Regions from separate parts of the Homo sapiens genome. Here region 1 is linked to region 2. Evidence: fine-mapped expression QTL. A gene starts in region 2. The other region holds a variant in brackets. All regions are shown on one strand. Distances are between the middles of the regions. Region 1 overlaps CRTAM (cytotoxic and regulatory T cell molecule). Region 2 holds the start of CRTAM (cytotoxic and regulatory T cell molecule).

Evidence for each region. PIP is the estimated chance that this variant, and not a neighbour inherited with it, causes the effect.
Region 1: its variant is the best candidate, but not a certain one, in a credible set for the expression of CRTAM in whole blood (INTERVAL, PIP 0.65).

The regions. Positions count from the first base shown.
Region 1 is chr11:122,861,729-122,869,728 of GRCh38, reverse strand. It overlaps CRTAM (cytotoxic and regulatory T cell molecule), which reads right to left. Exons shown (of 10, transcript NM_019604.4): 6 at 7,185-7,265; 7 at 5,010-5,093; 8 at 2,174-2,320; 9 at 1,630-1,716. Among named protein-coding and RNA genes, the nearest start is that of JHY, 17 kb to the left of the region's middle. The variant T/C (reference allele first, on the strand shown) is at 4,011.
Region 2 is chr11:122,827,606-122,843,234 of GRCh38, reverse strand. CRTAM (cytotoxic and regulatory T cell molecule) reads right to left here and starts at 4,735. Exons shown (of 10, transcript NM_019604.4): 1 at 4,643-4,735. The coding sequence starts at 4,688. RefSeq lists an enhancer at 10,387-11,059.

The DNA of each region.
Region 1 (8,000 bases), 30 kb before region 2:
TAAAAGACAAGCCTCCTACAAAAACCTCAGTAAAACCAATAGAATAGAGCGGCAAAACTCGCTGTATTTCTTGCAGCTCCTGGCGGGTAGAATAAGTTAGTTTGTATGGAGGAAATAATATGGTTGGAAGGTGGAATATTCTTGCTTTTCTATAGTCCTAGCTTCTGCCTTCCAGATCTTTATCAAGAATACAATCCCCAACCTCCACTTCCCATACACAATCTCCTTCCCATCCCGATTCTCTTCATTTTCTTTACATATTTTGTCTCAGGAATTGCAATGAAGTCATCCAAAGGACCTGACACATGCCTTCTTGAATTAATTGAGCCTATAGTCACTCATTTAACACAAATTTATCAACTAACCTGTGCTAGAATCTGAGGATACAGAGTAAATCTGATTACTCACCACCTAAAGGAGTATTGTAGTAGCTATGTAAAAACACCAAAAATTACAATATGGAGGAAGACGTGCTTCTATGACAAAGGTGTCATAGGATCCTCTGGTGGTCTTGGGGTATCCCTGTGTGTGACGTCAAACAGTCAAGGATGGCTTCCCAAAAGGAAGTCACCTTCTGCTACATGAACTTAACTGCTACTATTTATTTTTGCAGATGAGACTCCTTAAGTTCTACAGGATGATTTAGGAGACTTTCTAGTGCTAAAAAATCAGATTTTGATTCTTCTCCTTCTTTTTATTTATTTTTATTTTTATTTTTTTGAGGTGGAGTCCCTCTCTGTCACCCAGGTTGGAGTGCAGTGGCACGATCTCGGCTCACTGCAAGCTCCGCCTCCCGGGTTCACGCCATTCTCCTGCCTCAGCCTCCCAAGTAGCTGGGACTACAGGCTCCTGCCACCATGCCCGGCTAATTGTTTTGTATTTTTAGTAGAGACAGGGTTTCACTGTGTTAGCCAGGATGGTCTCGATCTCCTGACCTCGTGATCCGCCCGCCTCGGCCTCCCAAAGTGCTGGGATTACAGGCGTGAGCCACCGTACCCAGCCTCCTTCTTTTTAAAGGCGACTACTTAATTGCGATGGTTAATTTTAAGTGTTAAGTTGGGTGGATTAAGAAATACCTCAAATCTGGTAAAGCATTATTTTTGGGTTTGTCTATGAGGTTGTTTCTAGAGGAGATTAGTGTGTGAGTCTGAGTGGAGTAGGTGGGCATTGAGATTTGCCCTTGATGTGGATGGGCACCATCCATTCTGTTGGGGGCCCAGAAAGAACAAAATCAGAAAGAAGGCAAATGTGTTGATCTGTCTGCTGGAGCTGGAATACACTCCCTCCTCTCTCCTGGCAGCAGAACTCGAGACTCCCTAGCTTCGGATTTCAGGACTTAACGCTGGCGGTCCCCTGAGTTCTCAGGCCTTTGAACTTGGACTGAGCCAGGCTACCAGCATACCAGGGTCTCCAGTTTGCAGACCTCCTGTCCAAGGACTTGTCAGCCTCCATAATCTCATGAGCCAATTCCCCTAATAAATCCCACCTCATACACACACACACACACACACACACACACACACACACACACACACACACATATTCTGTTGTCTCTGTCTCTCTGGAGAAATCTGACTAATACATTAATGAACCTCATTGTTCAGATCTCAGGTCATACAGTTGACTTACATTGGCCATTTTTCTCTTCAGATGATGTTTCTTCATTATTTGACCTTGATCTGTAACTTTCTAGTGTGTGTTCTGAAACTTCGTTTTCTACAAAAAAAGAAAATCAAGCAACTAATTTCTGATGCCATGGACATGTAGAAATGTATATTTGAATAAGATAATACCTCTGTTACTGTGCAATAGTAGACTTACCATGCCCCTCCCATAACTCATACCTCATTAATTCAACACATAGTTTTTGATTCCTGTAGGGACTGTGCTAGGCAGTCCTGGGATTTTTATCCTTCTGTGAATAGAAGTGTCTATCATTTAATGCCAATTTCTGGATCTATGCTAGTTTCTATTGATTATACACTCTTAGACTATAGTCCCTGGAGATTCACACCCGAGTTTACTAGAAAACAAACAATTGCTTATCTGAGACAGCACTTATCAAATAGATTATGTAGTGTCTGACAGAAAGCTTTAATGGACAGAATTTCCCTTTTTTTTAGCCATTTGTTCTGGCGTCTTATAGCCCCCGTCAGGTTCCCTGCCCACTGACCTTTCTTCCATATCACATGTGCTTTCCTCAGCTTCATGATGAAGAGCTGGACTATGATGAAGAGTATGAAAATGAGGAAGGACACCAGCGTGAGCAGCAGGATGCCACTTTTCTTTCTTGCCAGTCCTAAATACTGAGGATTTGCTTCTATAAGGAAAATGAAAAAGGAGTTTAGATACTTTGGGTTTTTTTTTTTTTTTTGCCACTGGAGAATATGTAACAATACTTCTACAATGTGATATAAGCTAATAGACAGCTCAGATGAAGAGATGAGAAAGAGCTTACCCCTGAAGGTAAAGAGACTTACATTGTTCATTCTCTGAGAACAAGCAAACAGGCATACAACAAACAAGGCAATTATGTGTGATGATTTGAAAAGATTTTTTAAGTGACGTAGCTATTGGGCTAGTTATTTTTTATTTCTACAGAAAGCATATGAGAAAATCGACTTAAGTTATAGTCAGGAGATTCAAATTAGCTTTAGGAATGATTTTTAGCAAAATATAGTTAAGTAGCAAGAGGGATTGTTAAGGAGTTTAAAAAACTATCCAAATAAAATGAAAATTTATTTATCTTGGTTAGGTTAAATGTGGCCCTACAGGAAGGCATTTGGGCTAAATCAGATGAGCTTGTGAAAATATTTCTAGCCAGGTGCAGTGGCTCATGCCTGTAATCCCAGCACTTTGGGAGGCTGGGATGGGAGGGTTGCTTGAGGCCAGGAGTTTGAGACCAGCCTGGGCAACATAGTGACACTTTGTCTCTACAAAAATAATAATAATAAAAAATTAGCCAGGAGCAGTGGTGCACACCTGTAGTCCTAGCTACTTGGGAGACTGAGGCAGAGGATCACTTGAGTCCAGGAGTTTAAGGTTACAGTGAGCTATGACTGTGAAACTGCACTCCAACCTGGGAGACAGATGAGACCTGTCTCTTAAAAAAAAAAAAAAAGGCTTTCTAAACCTAGAATTCTGATTCTATGGGCTGTAGTCTTGCTAAATGTCCTAGTCACCTCATCTTAACCAATGAATAATTAAGGAGTGCCAGCTATGTGTAGAACATTGTGCTTGGACCTACAGAAGGCACAGTTCACATGCTTTGGGGATTAGCTGTCTCTATATATAAACAAATTAATAAAAACAAACAAAAGTAAGATATGTCAAATTCTGGATCCATATGTATTTATATCATAGTGTGTTCAGGGGTTCAGAGGCAAGAATGGTCTCTGAGGGTTGAGTTGGTCAAAAAAGTTTTCAGTGAAGATATTGGCCTTGAAGAGGGAGTAAGGAGAGGTGAGAGGAGGTCTCCTCTTCCACCAGGGGCAGTGAGGATAAACAAGGGCAGGGCGATTGAAAAGGGTTGATGTTTTCAGAGAAAAATATGTATCTCATAAGGACTTTGTAGATATGAGACTGCAGAAGTAGGTAATAGATGGCACCTAATGAGGTGTTTGGGACTCATGCTCTGTGTTGTAGACTTCAGGAAGCTATAAAGGGTTTTAGAACACAGGTATGCAGATAAAGAGATATTTTGATGGTAGGGTGCTAAAAGTGAACCAGAGGAGGAGAAACTGAAGTTATAATACTCCATGCAGGAGATGATGAGAGCCTGGATTGGGACGTTAACAGTGACAATGGACAAAATACCTGAAAGACAAGACTCAAAAGTTCTTGGAAATTGACTGATTTTATATACGTGTGTGCATATGCATATACATATACACATAGATATATTTGTACACATACATAGGAGTGATAGATAACACCAAGGTTTGGGACCCGTGTGTTGCTTTGGGGCCTGTGTGATGCTTTGGACAAGCTGATTTTGTGGGAGAAGGTGC[T/C]GTTTGGTATTTAGCAATGTTGAGTTTGGGGAAATCACAGAAAATTCAGCTACAGATACATAGAAAATGGAAAGAAATTGGGAGCAATGCTGAGGAGGATGTTCTGGAAATATAGGTATAGAAATCTTTTGCTTACTGGGCACAGTGGCTCACACCTGTAATCCCAGCTATTTGGGAGGTGGAGGTAGGAGATCTCTTGAGCCCTGGAGTTCAAGGCTGCGGTGAACATGATCGTGCCCCTGCACCCTGGCCTGGGAGACAGAGAGAGACCCTGTCTCTAAAAACAAAACAAAACCAGAAAAAAAAAAGAGAGAAATCTTTTGCCTAGTGGCAACAGGAACCATCTTGGGAATGAGTAAACTCTTTAAAAAATAAGGGAAGAACAGCCGGGCGCGGTGGCTCACGCCTGTAATCCCAGCACTTTGGGAGGCCGAGGCAGGCAGATCACCGGAGGTCGGGAGTTCAAGACCAGACTGACCAACATGGATAAACCCCATCTCTACTAAAAATACAAAATTAGCTGGGGTGGTGGCGTGTGCCTGTAATCCCAGCTACTCGGGAGGCTAAGGCAGGAGAATCACTTGAACCCGGGAGGTGGAGGTTATAGTGAGCTGGGATTGCACCACTGCACTCCAGCCTGGGCAACAAGAAAGAAACTCTGTCTCACAAAAAAAATATATATATATAAAAAAAAGGGAAGAACAAAAGATGGAGAAGTAAAATCAGAAGTACATACACATTTAAGAAGTCAGAAGAGGAAGATAAGTTAATTAATGGATACAGAGAAGCAGTGGTTAGCAACAAATAACAGAACCAGGAAAAGTATGTCAAGAAGCCGAGAGGTAACTAAATCAAGGAGGGACAAGGGAGTGATTAACCAATCATGTCCTAAAGGGCAGAAAGGTCAAGAAAAGGGAGGACTGACAAAGGCCATTGAATTTATCGATTAAGAGGTTAAAATGTCGAGTGTTTATTCTAAATGCAGTGGGTGACACTTACCGGTGGTCAAGTCAGGATCTTGAGTGGTTTGTTCTTTCTCTTCCTTGTCAATCTCCGATGTACTAGAATCTTCCGTTACTGAGACTAAAGTGAAAGAAGATAAAACATGAGCTATGCATGCATTATATACATGTGACTACATACAACTGTAGTTACGTAAGTCTTCCCAGAGCAGCTTGGGAAGCCAAATTTAAAAACAGTACTGAGATCATTTGTGAACTATGGATTTCTTGCAAACATAATTGCAAATGGCTAGGCTCACTTTGCCTTATTTTTTTAAGGTAAATGTTTTGGGCATTTACTCTGTGCCTGGCCTTGAACTGAGCACTTGGTATATATTATTTCTCACCACAGCTCTGAGAAAACGGAGGTTTAGAGCAGTTATGTAAAGTACCTAAAGTCCTGTAGCAAATAAGTGGCAAAGCCAATACATAAACTCTGTTTTACCTAACTCTAGAGCCCAGCATTTAAACCATTATTTCATATTTCCATCCTGAATCAGGCCTATTAGGGAGAAGGTCTTTAGGATGCTTCAAGATAACAACTGAACACCGAGGAACGGCATTCCAAGCTTTAATTATAGAAAACCTACAGCCTGAAATTTATGTTGAAATATAGCTTCAGTTATTCAAACCTCTGCTTGCCTCCCCATTAGAAGTGGGATGTACTATGATGTTTTTTCTAGATAAGATAAATTATAAAAAATCAGAAACTGTGTGGTTTTTTTTTCCAGATTTTACTGCTGATGTTTCCAATTTCCTTTTTTCTCTCTGCAGTTTCTTGCTTTTTAGTCCATTGCACAGCGCCACTATGTGGACCCCGAGGGGAATGAAGCCTCCCATTCTATTGAAAATGGGTATTAAATGTAATAAAATCGTAGAAATGGAAAGCTGAAAGGAATTTTAGAAACCCTATTTTAAAAGTCTTATATATGAAAAAGCAGAGCAGAAAATTGAGTTGCTCAGTAGCAAGCCGTTAAAGATTACTAGATTCTAAACACGTTTACAAATATTGGATTATTAAAGCAAGTGATGTGGCTGTTCCACTTCATAATATTTTCAATTTCCATTGTCCTTCAAAAAATTGTATGGTACATGTTGTATTTATCAGTGTTTAGAAATCCCAAACATTTACTTTTAAATATTATTTAGGATACAAATTTTTAAAAATATGATCTGATACTCAGAACTATGAACATGATAATGCTCTGAAAGCCCTTATTCCAACAAATGAAATTATTATTGACACATTACATGAAATGGAAAGAGAATATGTAGGAATTTATGCCTTTCTGGATGAGGCTAATAGTCTTGCTCAAAGCACCATAACCAATTCTTTCTTTCTTTCTTTTTCTTTCTTTCTTTCTTTTTCTTTCTTTCTTTCTTTCTTTCTTTCTTTTTCTTTCTTTCTTTTCTTTCTCTCTTTCTTTCTTTTTCTTTCTTTCTTTTTCTTTCTTTCTTTTCTTTCTCTCTTTCTTTCTTTCTTTCTTTCGTAATTCATTTTCTGAGAAGCTGCTATTGCTGGATACTATGCTAGGTAAAATACAAAGTTAAATTAGATATACAATCATTGCTCTGAGTTAACCTCTAGTGAGTTCACTGTCTAAAAAATTGGAATTATAATCCAGGCTTTCTAAATTATTCTGTATTTGTAGTTCAATCCCATCATCAAAAATGACCTGAGTTATTGACAATCAAGTAATTGATGTGCCTTCAGAGGTGATTTTGTTATTCAATGACAACACCAAATCTCCAGCTTCTGCTTCTTTTCTCTTTGTTGATACCAAGTCTGTGTTTTGTGTTTGGTGTGCTTCAGATGGGAAAACAAAGAAACGAGTCTCTCTATAAATGAATTCAACTTTGTCCTTTACTGCAGAGGAAATTCAAATGTCACAGTCGTGAATGTGTGTGTGTACATGTGTACATCTCTATCTCAGGCAAACTAGAACTGAACTTGCAAAGCTTTATGTCAGCCTGAAGCCCATCCCACTAAGTATTCCGATGCCTGATGTGGTTCTTCTCTAGGATGGTACAAAGCTGGAGCCAGTTGGAGGGGCCTGTATGGTCTTAGTAAAAATTAAAACAAAAAATATTCTTAAAACTTAGAATGAGAAAAATAACCTTCCCAAGGAAACGTGATTTTTTAAAAACAAGTTTGAATGATTTTGACACTTACCAGTACTGGTGGGCTGCTGTGGGTCTTGAGAGGATAGAGAGTTTCTCTCCAGAGCATCTGAAGCTGTCTCTTCATCAGTAACTAGGAAAGGGGAAAAACAAAATTCTGCTACTATAGAGAGCAGTTTTACCCACATTGTGCTCAGTAAAAGAGATTGGAGAATATATTTAGCGGCTACCTGCTTGTAGAGGTTGTGCAGAAACCCCAGAACTGTGTGTTCTGTGGCTCCTGCTCTGGTTTTTGAATCTGTATCCCACTGAGTGTCCATCTGCTCACCTGCCTGGCTTAAAGCACAGCATGCTGGACCTCTGTGTGGTGGCAGTGGTAGGCAAAGAGTATTCACTGTTTCTATCTGTGTCCTTCTATCCATCAATCAATCCCTCTGTCTGTTTATCTACCCATCCACCTATCTATCTACCTATTAGATGGCTTTGGAATCAGCCTCAGACTGGGCTGAATTCCAGTGCTGCTATTTACCTGCTCCTGAATGAGTTGGACAAGATACCCGACCTAGCACTTTTTTTTCTCTTATCTGTAAAATGGAGATACTGACAGCATTTACCTCTTCGAGTGTTTTGTGAGAATTAGTAAGTTCATTTATATAACATGTTTAGTACAATGCCTAGCTATTTATGAAGCACAGTGCTAAATGTTATTGTATAACATTAATCAATGCTTAGGAATGTTTCCAGAGGGTCAGCCTAGTATAGGTTTTACCAGTCATTGAACAGGTTTTACCAGCCACATCCAGGAAGCATGTAATAACTGTGCCTGTCACTTTACAAATACTAACACTGACATGTCGGGTGGGCACAG
Region 2 (15,629 bases):
ATGAACTAATTGTCCTATCAGTGGATGGCTTTACACCAAAGCACATGTGATCTACTCCCAAACAAAAGGACAAGCAGCAGTAACAGCCATCTACCAAAGTACACATAGACAAAACCAGTGCAGTTCGTAAGATTTTTTGGTCTTTCCCAAGATTTTGGAAGTTCTCATGTGCAATCTTTACCTCTACTATAGACTATCATGTAGACTGAGAAAAGAATAAAATATTCTTTCCTTTTCTTGCCTTAATAGCCTAGTTTTTACATGCAATAAATTTAAAACCAGAGCAGAGCAAGCCTGTCCTGCAAAGACCCCAAACTCTACATGTCCCATTGGAACTCGTTATCTCTACTGTCCCCATGCTCCACCCATGTCTAACACAGATATGCCACCTGCCCCATTCTAGAGTTCCCTTATATAAATTAATGTCATCACCAACCACTGCACACCAGATATTTGAGAGGTGCTCTAAACTCTTCTTTCTCCAAAACATCCTTTAATCAATTTAGTCCTCTTTTGTCACTATTATTGCTGCCTTAGTTAAGGACTCCATCATTTCTTTCCTGGACCACTGTAATAACTTAGTTCTAGTCTCTCTTCTCTCTAATTCATCATCATCATCTGGTTCTAGGATTACATTTTAAAACCATGAATTTGAGGCCGGGCGTGGTGGCTCAACGCCTGTAATCCCAGCACTTTGGGAGGCCGAGGCGGGTGGATCTCCTGAGGTCAGGAGTTCGAGACCAGCCTGGCCGACATAGTGAAACCCCATGTCTACTAAAAATACAAAAAATTAGCCAGGGATGGTGGCAGGCACCTGTAATCCCAGCTACTCTGGAGGCTGAGGCAGGAGAATCACTTGAACCTGGGAGGTGGAGGTTGTGGTGAGTGAGATTGTGCCATTGCACTCCAGCCAGGGCAACAAGAATGAAATTCCATCTCAACAAACAAACAAACAAACAAACAAACATATAACCCATGAATTTGATTATGTCTCTTCCTTCATTCAAGTGTTTGCTATGGCTTCCATTGCCTATAGGAATCAGGCCCAAATTCCAGCCGACTTGACTCCTGTGTTCTCCTCCTTTGCCATGTCGTGATACTCCTTTTCAGATAGTCCTTGTACATGTCCACTTGCTGTTTCCAGAAAGTTCCAGGCTCCAGAAGATAGTTTGTCTTTTTCTATGATATTCTCTTGTCCTGGAATGTCTTTCTCATCTCCTTCAAGACTCAACATTAAGACCCAACTCAAGACTCAACTTATAGGCTCAACTCAAATTACACAACTTTTGTCAAAACTTCCAAAACAGGCCTTAGCTTCCCTTTTCCCCATAATGTCTTTCCCCTAGTTTCCCAAAGTCTTGAGATATACTTCTATTACAGCACTTAGCACATTACTTTATAATTATTTGGTTACAGGTGTTTCTCTGTAGATAGATTACAAACTCCTTATGGAAAAGCTGTTTGCCATCCACTCATTTTAGCATAATGTAAAATTTTAGATATTGGTTGAATTAGTGGATAAAAATGAGTAAATAGGCCGGGCTCGGTGGCTCACACCTGTAATCCCAGCACTTTGGAAGGCTGAGGCAGGCGGATCATGAGATCAGGAGATCGAGACTATCCTGGCTAACATGGTGAAAGCCTGTCTCTACTAAAAATACAAAAAATTAGCCAGGAGTGGTGGCGGGTGCCTGTAGTCCCAGCTACTCGGGAGGCTGAGGCAGGAGAATGGCGTCAACCCGGGAGGTGGAGCTTGCAGTGAGCTGAGATCACACCACTGCACTCCAGCCTGGGCGACGGAGCAAGACTCTGTCTCAAAAAAAAAAAAAATAGAGTAAAAGTATATATTTAGGAATAAATATTATAATAGGATGCTAACTTTGCTCTTTAACTGTTATATCAAATAATAAAGACTAGGGCTAAGTTAAAGCCAGAGACATGCAATGCATTAATTCTCAAATCAGAGCCCTAGTTACATGACTGTCATGAGGCATTAAGCAAAAGTGTGTTTTAATTCAGATCATTACAAAAAAAGATTTTTATTATTTTTAGATTGAATCAATAGAGAAAATTGCAGGTATAAAAATAAATCAGACTTGTCAGAATCGGAATATTTTTAGTACATTTTAAAGAAGCTGTCTCAACATGTCATCTAACATGTGACTTTTTCCTGGGCAAAGAAAGTATGAAAAGAACTACTCAATTTGCAATTTTCCTTTGTTTTCTGCATCCTACCCTCCACAAAACAATGAAAACAGAGGGTTCAAAATTCATTGGATTTGACATTTTCATTGTCTACAGTGTAATTTAATGGGATGAATTTTGAAAAATGCTTCATTTTTATTGTGTTTTTACCAGTCCTAAGACTATTTATTCTGGGAGTGGCCTTGAAAAGAGGGCAGGCTCTGAGATTACGTGACTTTTTTTTTTTCCATAAATTTTTGGCAGCCATAGAAGTAACACTGTAGAAGTAGTCACAGTGATCTTCCCATAATTTAATTTGCTAAAATCAGCTGACAGTTTATAGCTTTGCCAAAACTGATGATTTGCTGCCTTTTTTGCTGACAAGAAAGCAACATGGTCACCTCCTCCTAATTACGTCTGGGATGGGCTTGAGCAAGGTTAGGTCAGGGGTGGCAGCCACTGCTCAAATGCCATTGAGCTTAGATGCCCTCGGGTGGCCCCTTGAACGAGTTTTCAAATAGGACTTTTTAATATTGAATCCTCCAAATTGTGAAAGTCAGTGGTTTTCCAACTTTTGATCCACATTAATACATTTTCTGTCACAACTAGTACACACACACACACACACACGTTAATTAGAAGTTTCATGAAATAAATACTTTTACTATGTGCTTTATAGGCTGGTATTTATGTTGTCATATTCTAGCTTTAAAACTTGGGCAGGTTACATAACTTCTTTTCTCATCTTTAAATTGGGGATATTAGTACCTACCTCAGTACTTCCGCTATGATTAAGTGTAATTAACACAAAGTACTCAGCACTGTGCATGAAACAATATTTTTCCTCTCTATATAAATAATATTTAAGTAATTTAGGTTTACCTTGAAACATAATTTTTGCTATTTATTTAAAAAATGTATTTTTATGAGTTATTTTTTATGAGGCAATAACTCAAAGCCTGAAAAAGTTAAGGTCAGTGAAAGGCTTTAAACTCTGGAAAAATTGAAATCATCCTAATTTTAGCTGTCTAAATGTACTCTTTTTGAATGTATTAGCTATTCTTTAAGCCACTTAATGAAGAAACTAATATTATTCATTACCAAAATTGAATCCTTATTAAGTGCCTCAGGGTACAGGGACCAAAAAAAGAAGGCATTAATTGAAGTATATAAAATAGGGAATTGAAGTACTATGTAAAATAGGAAATCGAGTTTTTTAAAGTAGCGTCCTTCAGATGCCATTCCAGATTAAATGTAGATTTAGAAGGATAGGTGCATTTCATGAAACAGAACTACAGTTTCAATATTTGGTAACAAACACACAAAAAGCAAAATTTTTGAGTGGATTTGTGAGGGATGTCCTTTGCATGAATCTGATACAATTGTAAGCAGAGACTGAGGGACAACAGGAGCCACTTCCTACACCCCTGCCCCCACTTTTGGGTAGAAAATAATTTGACCTGCTCCAAAAAGGTAACTGCTTCTATCCTTAATTTTCATAATGCTACATTAGGATTAAGCACTAAAATCCAAATTTGAAAATTATAGTAAAATGTAAAGTATAACTTACTCTTTAAAAATAAACACGAAGTTTTCATTGGTCTCATTATTACCTCTGAGCTAAATAAGTGTTGCACAGCGCTTTATCATTTTCAAAGTGCTTTCACATTTGAAATTTGATCCTTCTAACAATCCAGGGAGTTTGGTGGATCAAAAGTTTTTATCATTTTCATTTTAAGATGCAGAAACTGAGTTTCAAAGAGATTAAATCGTTTGGCTAAGATTTATACAGCAAGGAAATTTTAAAATTCAACGTGGAGGCCGGGCGCGGTGGCTTACGCCTGTAATCCCAGCACTTTGGGAGGCTGAGGTGGGCAGATCACGAGGTCAGGAGATTGAGACCATCCTGGCTAACACGGTGAAACCCCGTCTCTACTAAAAATATAAAAAAATTAGCCGGGCGTGGTGGTGGCGGGCACCTGTAGTCCCAGCTACTTGGGAGGCTGAGGCAGGAGAAAGGCGTGAACCCGGGAGGCGGAGCTTGCAGTGAGCCGAGGTCGTGCCGCTGCACTCCAGCCTGGGCGACAGAGCGAGACTGTGTCTCATAAATAAATAAATAAATAAAATAAAATAAAATTCAATACGGATGCTCTTTCAACTGGTATGCCCTTAAAAGACAGAGCCTAATAAGCTTGTTTCATCTTGCCGTAACATAGGACCCACAGAGACACACACTATAATGATCCTTTCTATACTCCTTAGCCATTGAACGAGAGATCAAATAAACGCAGTAACATCCCTCAGATGCATGATTTGAGCATGGCTTGGAAAGTATTAGCAGTTACCTGGGTTGTCTTCTACAGCAGCTCCTCTGTAAATGCAGTTGACTGACTGATAGGTAGATGTGGCAAAACATTAAGTCAGCTGAGCAACAACAAAAATAACTCTAAGTCCTTACCTTGCAAGGGGAACCATGCCAGCAAGCTGAGAACTCTCCACCACATACTGTGCTGTGCTGCTGTGGCACCTTTGTCAACTTCCTCTAGATTCTGAGACAAATGGAGCTGAGTAGTTTCTTTTAAAGGGGGAGAGGCAGTAGATCTGTGACCTCATGTGTATCAACTCCTCCATCTGTCTGGAAGCCCCCTCTTAGTTAGCTGCCCCCAGAACACCTCCTGGTGGAACATTTTGGGGACCACATGTATTATCTTGATGGCAGAGAGGTGTGAGTGATGTGTTGGTGACAAAAATTGTTTTACCACAAGTGGGTAGTACTGGTAAATCAACTAGTTGCAAGGTTTTTAGAGGGAGCATGGGTGGGAGAAATACTGTAAAATGTCCCTGTGTAGTGACGTCATCCTTATTTTTACTTTTCTAGTTTATTAGATAAATACAATTAGATAATTTTTGCTCAACCTTTGGGAATATTTTATTTCTATGCTGACATCAATTTATAATTGTTGTCGGGGAGGAATTCATTCATTCATATAGATATACTCATTTTTGAAATCTATATATCTGTCCACCCACCCATCCACCCATCTTTTCATCCACCCACTCACAAATACAAATCTATTCATCCACCTATCCATCCATCCATCCTTCCATCCATCCACCCACACATCCATCCACCCATCCATTTATCCTTCCATCCACCCACTCACTCATGTATTACCTGCCCACTCATTCCCCATCCACCCATCCATCCATCTATTCATCCACACATCCATCCATCTCTCCATCCATCCAGCCAGCCAGCCATCCATCTATTTATCCATCCATCTATCCATCTATCCATCCATCCATCCATCCATCCATCCATCCATCCATCCATCCATCCATCCATTTATCCACCCATCCATCCATTCACCCATCCATCTATCCATCCATCCATCCGTCCATGACCTATTCATTCACCCACCCATCTATCTATACATGCAAATACTCATCCATCCACCCAACCACCCATCTATCTATCCACCCACGCATTCATCCATTCACCCACTCATTCATCCATTTACCCACCCATCTATCTATACATATGTCCGTCCGTCCATCCATCCATCCATCCATCCATCCATCCATCCTTCTATCCACCCATTCATCTTGTCACCTGTACAGCATCTAGTATGCACTACTTTGAGACATGCTCAAATAAAAAACATAAATTCCTTGTTTTTCAGGAGAATATAATCTAGTGGGGGAGACAATGTACATATGAACAGTTCTGGTATTTAATTTTCATTAATTGGACAAATTGAGATAGATTTAATGTAGTTTTTCCAGGAGCACACAGTAAAATATTAGTAAGTTTATGTTTAGAAAACAGAGATCAGTCTGCAATGCTTGGAAAATGAAAAGGAAACACTACTTACTGGCTCTAATTGAAATTAGTGTTAATACTCTGATAAATTTGATGAAGTTTGGGTAGGAAAAGTCTTACTCATCAAAAATGTCTTCCAAATATTTTGTTGGCTGGGCACAGTGGCTCATGCCTGTAATCTTAGCATTTTGGGAGGCTGAGGTGTGAGGATCATCTGAAGCCAGGAGTTCAAGACCAACCTGGGCAACATAGTGAGACCCCCATCTCTACAAAAAATACAAAAATTAGCTGAGCATGGTGGTGCATGCCTGTAGTCCCAGATACTTGGGAGGCTGAGGTGGAAGGGTTGCTTGAATGCAGGAGGTTGAGGCTGCGGTGAGCCGTGATCACACTACTGTACTGCAATCTGGGTGACAAAGTGACACCCTGTCTTAAAAAAATAAAAATAAAAAATCCTCCAAAACACAATATTTTGTCTTTCAAATTTTTCATTTTTTAATTTTTTCCCTTTTGCTCATAATATTCCATCCAGGAACTTCTAATTTTTATACTTGTCCTCAGTAGAAGAGAACAGTTTACCCAGGGTCACTCTTCCTCCATAGGGCATCCATGAGGGGGTCTCAAGGTCCTTTTCCCTTGCCTTGAGGTGGAGCAACTCTGAAGCTCCCCAAGGGATCAGGATCAGCTGAGATCTTTGTTGTAACTGCACCTCAGTCCAGCTTCTACCGATTCTCCAACTTGCTTCCTTCTTGTCACCAAGAGTACTCATCTATAAACTTCTGCACACGGATCTCTGTATCAGCTTCTGTTTCCCAGGAACCTGACCCACAACAACACTTGACATAGGTTGTCAACGAGTGAATGAAAGACTAAATTGACTCTTTATTTGAGATGTAAATGCTACTCTTTTTGCTCTGAAGTCTAAAAAGATGTTTGACTTACAATTTCCCCAGAGCATTAAAGAAGAGCTTACTTTAAATTGCACTTTGGACGATGGAGAGTGTATCCTTTTCATCCACGGGTGCCATATTCAACTGGTTGAAAACCTTGACAAATGTCACAATAGTCCACTGGACTTGGACATTAAGAACGGTTGGTGGGGGAAATGCTACAAGGTGAACTGGTGGACGACATACATGTGTGCTTTCCAGGGTCCCTGTTCTCATTACCCCCACTTCAGCCTGCAGCTCATGTAGTATTCAACAGGAGAGGGCAGCAGATTGTGGCTGCTCAGTGAATTGGGAGAAAAAGACGAGGTTGGAAGGTAATAAGTGGTCTACCTATTTTCTAATGGGAAAGAGTCTACTGAACAGTATGTGGGAGACCTCACAACTGATAGCTAGTTTGTCATTTTGGTCTCCGTTTTATGAAATCTTCATATTATGTTTCAATACTAATAGGAAATAACATTTGGTGGGGTGGCAGAGGGGGGACATATTTTGGAGAAATAAACAAACATCCTCTCTATTTTTCATCGTCACCCTTGTCAACCTGAGTTTTGGGGGTGGGGGGGTGCAAACATGAAAAATAAGACATTTATTAAATAGGCTAAAGATGAACTGTTTTAAGGGTCAGAAAACAGGGGATTTCCTTATGTCTAGAAGCCACTGGGTTTTTTTGTTGCATTTACAAAAGGGGCCTACACTTTCTTCTTGACCTTTCACAGATTCTGTGAAGAATCGTGACCTTTCCCAAGGTCAGAGTAAGAGGTGGACTCGCCTGCATCTACCAGAAGATGCCTCAGATAACTCACACCAAGTGTTGAGGTTTTCTGAGCACTGCTGTAAAACTTGCACAAAGTGACTGTGGAGTTTCTAAGCCAGAGCAGCAGCCTTTGAAATTAATTATTGATTCAGAGAGAAGTTTCCTAGCAGTAGTGGGAGCTTAGTGGGACGAGCATGGGAGTGAGTAGCAGACAGACCCAGGCTTGTCCCCTAGGCCCTGTCACTAGCAGCTGTGTAGCACTAAGCACACTACCTGCCTGTTGGAATCAGTTTCCTCACTTGTAAAATGGGAAGAATAATTACAGCCTGAGGTGACTGTCCAGGAATCATAAGGCAGGAGCTGAGAAAGTTCGACTGTAGCATTTTTAAAAATGAAGAATTGGCCGGGCGTGGTGGCTCACGCCTGTAATCTCAGCACTTTGGGAGGCTGAGATGGGTGGATTGCCTAAGCTCAGGGGTTTGCAACCAGCCTGGGCAACACGGTGAATCCCTATCTCTACTAAAATACAAAAAATTAGCCAGACTACGGTAGCTGTAGTTCCAGCTACTTGGGAGGCTGAGGCAGGAGAATTGCTTGAACTTGGGAGGCGGAGGTTGCAGTGAGCCGAGATTGCGCCACTGCCCTCCAGCCTCGGCGACAGAACGAGACTCTGTCTCAAAAAAAATAAATAAAATTTAAAAAACCCAAAGAATTAAGAAGTTTGCCTGAAGTGACACAGTGAGTCAGTGATACACACACACACACACACACACACACACACACACACATTTTTCTTTGTCTATGAGATTCCTTTGAAGGACTTCAAATTTTTATACTTGCCCTCGGTGGAAGAGAACCAGCTCACCCGGGGCCACACCTTCTTTATGGGGCACTCATGGATGGTTAAATTGAAAATATTATAATACCCAGAGCACCCAGCATCTTGGCACAAAAAACATTCTCCATAAATCTGCAGACCTCAGGTGGCTGGAGCAGCATCTCATCCCCACAGGAACCATGGTAGGTTGGGTGTGCCGGGAGGAGGAAAGGCATCATTCACCTTTTGTTAAGACTTCTGCCGAAAAAACCTACTATTGTGAACCTGGGCTTTCGTGAGGGTAGAAACTTTATTTACTCTAGTGAAATAGATCATTCTGAAAACAACCCAAATATGAGCTGATTTCAGAAGGCAATTGTGGTTTCGGAGAGTATACCACAGGATAGCAAGGGCCAGCTTCAGGCCCCAGCTCATGGAGCTCTGCCCAGATAAGTGACCAGCCCTGGCGTCTTCATCTATAAATGAGATTAGATGAAAGTTGTGGTTTCCAAACTGTATTCTGAAGAACCCAAGTATCCCCAAGACACCTCAGGCTTCTGCAATATTTTCATTGAAGTTTCTTTTAAAAAACATTTTCCATGATTAGTCCAGGCTCTGGAACCAGGCTGACATGGTCCTGGTCTCAGCCCTAACACTCATGAGCCGTGTGACTGTGTGTGAATTATTGAATCTTTCTAAGATTCAACTTCCTCTTTCATAAATCGGGAATAATAGTTTCTACCGAATAGAGTTGGTGAGAAGATTTAAAAAGCTTACACATGTGAAGTACTTAGAAAAGTGTCTGATAAATACAAGCACTCAAATGCTAGCTGTTACTTTGCTGGCCACTGGATGCCACCAATCTATGAATTGTTATGTCAGGTAAAATAGTTTTGATGCTGGATTCTGTGGATTTAGAATAAAATCCAAATGTTTCACCGTGGTCTATGATGAGATCAACCCACTTTTTCTGCAAGGGGCCAAGTATAAACATTTAAAATAGTTTTACTTCTCAACTCTGCCCTTGTATCCTGGAATAGCCATAGGCAATATGTAAATAAGTGAATGAGGCTGTGTTCCAATAAAATTTTATTTATATATACTGGAACTCTAATTTCATATATCAATCTCTTTATTCTTTGCTTTTTCCCCCAAAGATTTGAAAAGCTAAAAATCATTCTTAGCCTGCAGCTGTACAGGCAGGCTGTGGGCCAGATTCTGCTCACGAGTGAGATTCTGCACAATGAGCAATACTTTGCTGACCCCTGGTCTGTAAGACCCCATGTCTTTATAAGCCCCCCACTTTCTATCATGCTTACTACACTTTAGCTCCCCAGCCTCTTCTGTTCTAACCCAGCTAGTGTCTTCCCATGTGAGGGCTTCTGTATACACAGCTTCCTGATACCCTCCTCGTTTAGGTCTTCAGCCCAACCAGCTCCTGCTCAGTTTTAACTGTTGGTTTCATCATCACCTGTTCAGGGACGCCATGCCCTAACTAAGAGTGTAACCCCTGCCCCACATCCCTTCAAAGTTACTTTCTATCATATTACCCAGTTTATTTCCTAAAGAGCATTTATCAAAATCTGTAATTATCTTGTTTATTTATGTATTCATTCTCTGTCTCCCACTCCATCAGAGCAGGGGCCTTGCATTCTTTTTTGCCACTATAGCTCCAGCCTGCCACTCTGCTGGAAATAGTGTTCAATAAGTATTACAGAATGATGAATGAATCCACAAGCTCAGTATCTTAGTTTCATTCATTGAGTTGATAATACCTGATCTCCTTACTTTGTAAAATTGTTATGAGGATCAAATGAGGAAGTGTTTTTTTTTTTAATTATAAAGAGTTATACGAAGGGAAGTGGTAAATCATTAAGGCAACTTTCATGCGTGTCTGTGTGAAGAGACCACTAAACAGGCTTTGTGTGAGCAATAAAGCTTTTAATCACCTGGGTGCAGGCGGGCTGAGTCCGAAAAGAGAGGCAGCAAAGGGAGATAAGTGTGGGGCCGTTTTATAGGATTTGGGTAGATAAAAGAAAATTACAGTCAAAAGTGGGTGTTCTCTGGCGGGCAGAGTGGGGGTCACAAGGTGCTCAGTGGGGGAGCTTTTGAGCCAGGATGAGCCAGGAGAAGGAATTTCACAAGACAATGTCATCAGTTAAGGCAGGAACAGGCCATTTTCACTTCTTTTATGCTGGAATGTCATCAATTAAGGCAGGAACTGGCCATCTGGATGTGTATGTGCAGGTCACAGGGGATATGATGACTTAGCTTGGGTTCAGAGGCCTGACATTCCTGTCTTCTTATATTAATAAGAAAAATAAAACGAAATAGTGGTAAAGTGTTGGGACGGTGAAAATTTTGGGGGGTGGTATGGAGAGAGAGAATGGGCGATGTTTCTCAGAGCTGCTTCGAGCGGGATTAGGGGCGGCGTGGGAACCTAGAGTGGGAGAGATTAAGCTGAAGGAAGATTTTGTGGTAAGGGGTGATATTGTGGGGTTGTTAGAAGGAATATTTATCATTTAGAATTATTGATGATGGCCTGGATACAGTTCTGTATGAATTGAAAAACTAAATGGAATAAGAGAAGGAGAAAAACAGGTATAAAAGGTCTAAGAATTGGGACGACTCAGGACATCTGATTAGAGAGAGCCTAAGGAGATTCAGCATAGTCCTGCCAGCAAAGATTATTTATTTACTTCAAGAGTTAAGAGTGGCAGTTTGGGGATAGCACCAGGAGATATCAGCTGTGATGGCTTGGAGAAACAGTGTAAACCGGCAGTGTAAACAAGAGCAGGGCATGTATGAGTAGTTGAGAATGGTGAATAGGAGTATGACTAGAGAGAAGATAGTAGGGATGACAAGTTTTTTGGGGGCACAGTCTAAGTTGGTCTGGTGTCTGGAATGAGACTGGGGCCTAATAAAAAGGAGTGTCTATACAGGAGCTCAAATGGGCTGTACCTTGTAGCATTCTGAGGACAGGTCTGACTTCTGAGAAGGTAAAGTGGTAAAAGTATTGTCCAGTCCTTTTTAAGTTGGTGGCTGAGCTTGGTGAGGTGTGTTTTTAAAAGACCTTTAGTCCGTTCTACTTTTCCTGAAGACGGAGAACCGTAAGGGATATAAAGGTTTCACTGAATACCAAGAGCCTGAAAACCTGCTTGGCTGATTTGACTAATAAAGGCTGGTCTGTTATCAGACTGTATAGAGGTGGGAAGGCTAAACTGAGGAATTATGTCTGACAGAAGGGAAGAAATGACTGCGGTGGCCTTCTCAGACCCTGTAGGAAAGGACTGTACTTAACTAGTGAAAGTGTCTACCTAGACTAAGAGGTATTTTAGTTATCTGACTCGGGGCATGTTGAGTAAAGCTAATTTGCTAGTCCTGGGTTGGGGCAAATCCTCGAGCTTGATGTGTAGGGAAGGGAGGGGGCCTGAGTAATCCCTGAGGGATAGTAGAATAGCAGATGGAACACTGAGAAGTTATTTCCTTGAGGATAGATTTCCACGATGGAAAGGAAATGAGAGGTTCTAAGAGGCAGGCTAGTGGCTTGTACTATAGCATAGCCTGCCTTTGCTGGTGTGTGGCAATTAGGCCTGGTGGAACCGCCATCAATAAATCAAGCGTGATCAGGGTGAGGAACAGGAAAGAAGGAAATATGGGGAAATGGGGTGAATGTCAGGTGGATCAGAGAGATACAGTCATGGGGGTCAGGTGTGGTATCAGGAATAACGTGGGAGGCTGGATTGAAGTCCAGGCCAGGAACAATGGTAATTGTGGGACTTAACAAAGAGTGAGTACAGCTGAAGGAGCCGGGGAGCAGAAAGCATATGCATCAGGTATGAGGAAGAAAATAGATTTTGGAAGTTATGAGAAATGTAGAGAGTGAATTGAGCATAGTTTGTGATTTTTAGGGCCTCTAAAAGTATTAAAGCAGCGGCAGCTGCTGCACACAGACATGAGGGCTAGGCTAAAACAGTAAGGTCAAGTTGTTTGGACAGGAAGGCTACAGGGTGCGGTCCTGGCTCTTGTGTAAGAATTCTGACCACGCTAACCATGCCTAGGAAGGAAAGGAGTTGTTGTTTTGTAAGGGATTGAGGTTTGGGAGATTAATCGGACACGGTCAGCAGGGAAAGCACGTGTGTTTTTATGAGAATTATGCCGAGATAGGTAACAGATGAGGATGAAATTTGGGCTTGACTGAAGTAATGGGGGCTGTCTGTGAAGCCTTGCGGCAGTACAGCCTAGGTAATTTGCTGAGCCTGATGGGTGTCAGGGTCAGTCCAAGTGAAAGCGAAGAGAGGCTGGGATGAAGGGTGCAAAGGAATAGTAAAGAAAGCATGTTTGAGATCCAGAACAGAATAATGGGTTGTGGAGGGAGGTATTGAGGATAGGAGAGTATATGGATTTGGCACCACGGGGTGGATAGGCAAAACAGTTTGGTTGATAAAGCGCAGATCCTGAACTAACCTGTAAGGCTTGTCTGGTTCTAGGACAGGTAAAATGGGGGAATTATAAGGAGAGTTTATAGGCTTTAAAAGGCCATGCTGTAGCAGGCGAGTGATAACAGTCTTTAATCTTTTTAAATCGTGCTGTGGAATGGAATCTTGGCATTGAGAGGAGTAAAGGTGATTAGGTTTTAATGAGATGGTAAGGGGTGCGTGACCGGTCGCCAAGGAGGGAGTAGAGGTATCCTATACTTGGGGGTTAAGGTTGGGGGATACAAGAGGAGGATGCAAAGGAGGCTTTGGATTGGGAAGAAGGGCGGCAATGAGATGTAGCTGTAATCCAGGAATAGTCAGGGAAGCAGATAATTAAGTTAAAGTGTCTCAGCCTAATAAGGGAACTGGGCAGGTGGGGATAACTAAAAAGGAGTGCTTAAAAGAGTATCGTCTAAGTTGGCACTAGAGTTGGGGAGTTTTAAGAGGTTTAGAAGCCTGGCTGTCAATACCTACAACAGTTATGGAGGCAAGGGAAACACGCCTTTGAAAAGAAGGTAATGTGGAGTGGGTAGCCTCCGTATTGACTAAGAAAGGGACGGACTTACCTTCTACTGTGAGAGTTACTTAGTGTCTGTGTTGGTCCTGTAGGCTTCTGAGGCGATCAGGCGGTGTCAGTCTTCAGCTGCTAAGCCGAGAAGATCTGGGAAGGAGTCAGAGAGCCTTGGGCCAGAGTTCCAGGGGCTCTGGGAGTGGTTGCCAAGTGAGTTGAACATTCTGATTTCCAGTGGGGTCCTGCACAGATGGGATGTGGCTTAGGAGGAATCCTGGGCTGTGGGCATTCCTTGGCCTGGTGGTCAGATTTCTGGCACTTGTAGGAAGCTCCTGGGGGAGGAGGTTCTGGAGGAATGCCTGGCCGCTGTGGTTCAGGCGTTTGGAAGTTCTTGTTTGCTGGAGATGTGGCTGGGGTTTGTCTTACAGTGGAGGCAAGGAATTGCAACTTTTTTCTATTATTGTATACTTTGAAGGTGAGGTTAATTAAATCTTATTGTGGGGTTTGAGGGCTGGAATTTAATTTTTGGAGTTTTATTTAATGTCAGGAGCAGATTGGGTAATAAAATGTATATTGAGAATAAGACAGCCTTTTGACCTTTTAGGGTCTAGGACTGTAAAGCGTCTCAGGGTTGCTGCCAAACAAGCCATGAACTGGGCTGGGTTTTTTTTTTTTTTTTAATACTTTAAGTTTTAGGGTACATGTGCACATTGTGCAGGTTAGTTACATATGTATACATGTGCCATGCTGATGCGCTGCACCCACCAACTCGTCATCGAGCATTAGGTATATCTCCCAATGCTATCCCTCCGCCCTCCCCCCACCCCACAACAGTCCCCAGAGTGTGATGTTCCCCTTCCTGTGTCCATGTGATCTCATTGTTCAGTTCCCACCTATGAGTGAGAATATGTGGTATTTGGTTTTTTGTTCTTGTGATAGTTTACTGAGAATGATGATTTCCAATTTCATCCATGTCCCTACAAAGGACATGAACTCATCATTTTTTATGGCTGCATAGTATTCCATGGTGTATATGTGCCACATTTTCTTAATCCAGTCTATCATTGTTGGACATTTGGGTTGGTTCCAAGTCTTTGCTATTGTGAATAATGCCGCAATAAACATACGTGTGCATGTGTCTTTATAGCAGCATGATTTATAGTCCTTTGGGTATATACCCAGAAATGGGATGGCTGGGTCAAATGGTATTTCTAGTTCTAGATCCCTGAGGAATCGCCACACTGTCTTCCACAATGGTTGAACTAGTTTACAGTCCCACCAACAGTGTAAAAGTGTTCCTATTTCTCCACATCCTCTCCAGCACCTGTTGTTTCCTGACTTTTTAATGATTGCCATTCTAACTGGTATGAGATTGTATCTCATTGTGGTTTTGATTTGCATTTCTCTGATGGCCAGTGATGGTGAGCATTTTTTCATGTATTTTTTGGCTGCATAAATGTCTTCTTTTGAGAAGTGTCTGTTCATGTCCTTCGCCCACTTTTTGATGGGGTTGTTTTTTTCTTGTAAATTTGTTTGAGTTCATTGTAGATTCTGGATATTAGCCCTTTGTCACATGAGTAGGTTGCGAAAATTTTCTCCCATTTTGTAGGTTGCCTGTTCACCCTGATGGTAGTTTCTTTTGCTGTGCAGAAGCTCTTTAGTTTAATTAGATCCCATTTGTCAATTTTGTCTTTTGTTGCCGTTGCTTTTGGTGTTTTAGACATGAAGTCCTTGCCCATGCCTATGTCCTGAATGGTAATGCCTAGGTTTTCTTCTAGGGTTTTTATGGTTTTAGGTCTAACGTTTAAGTCTTTAATCCATCTTGAATTAATTTTTGTATAAGGTGTAAGGAAGGGATCCAGTTTCAGCTTTCTACATATGGCTAGCCAGTTTTCCCAGCACCATTGATTAAATAGGGAATCCTTTCCCCATTGCTTGTTTTTCTCAGGTTTGTCAAAGATCAGATAGTTGTAGATATGCGGCGTTATTTCTGAGGGCTCTGTTCTGTTCCATTGATCTATATCTCTGTTTTGGTACCAGTACCATGCTGTTTTGGTTACTGTAGCCTTGTAGTATAGTTTGAAGTCAGGTAGCGTGATGCCTCCAGCTTTG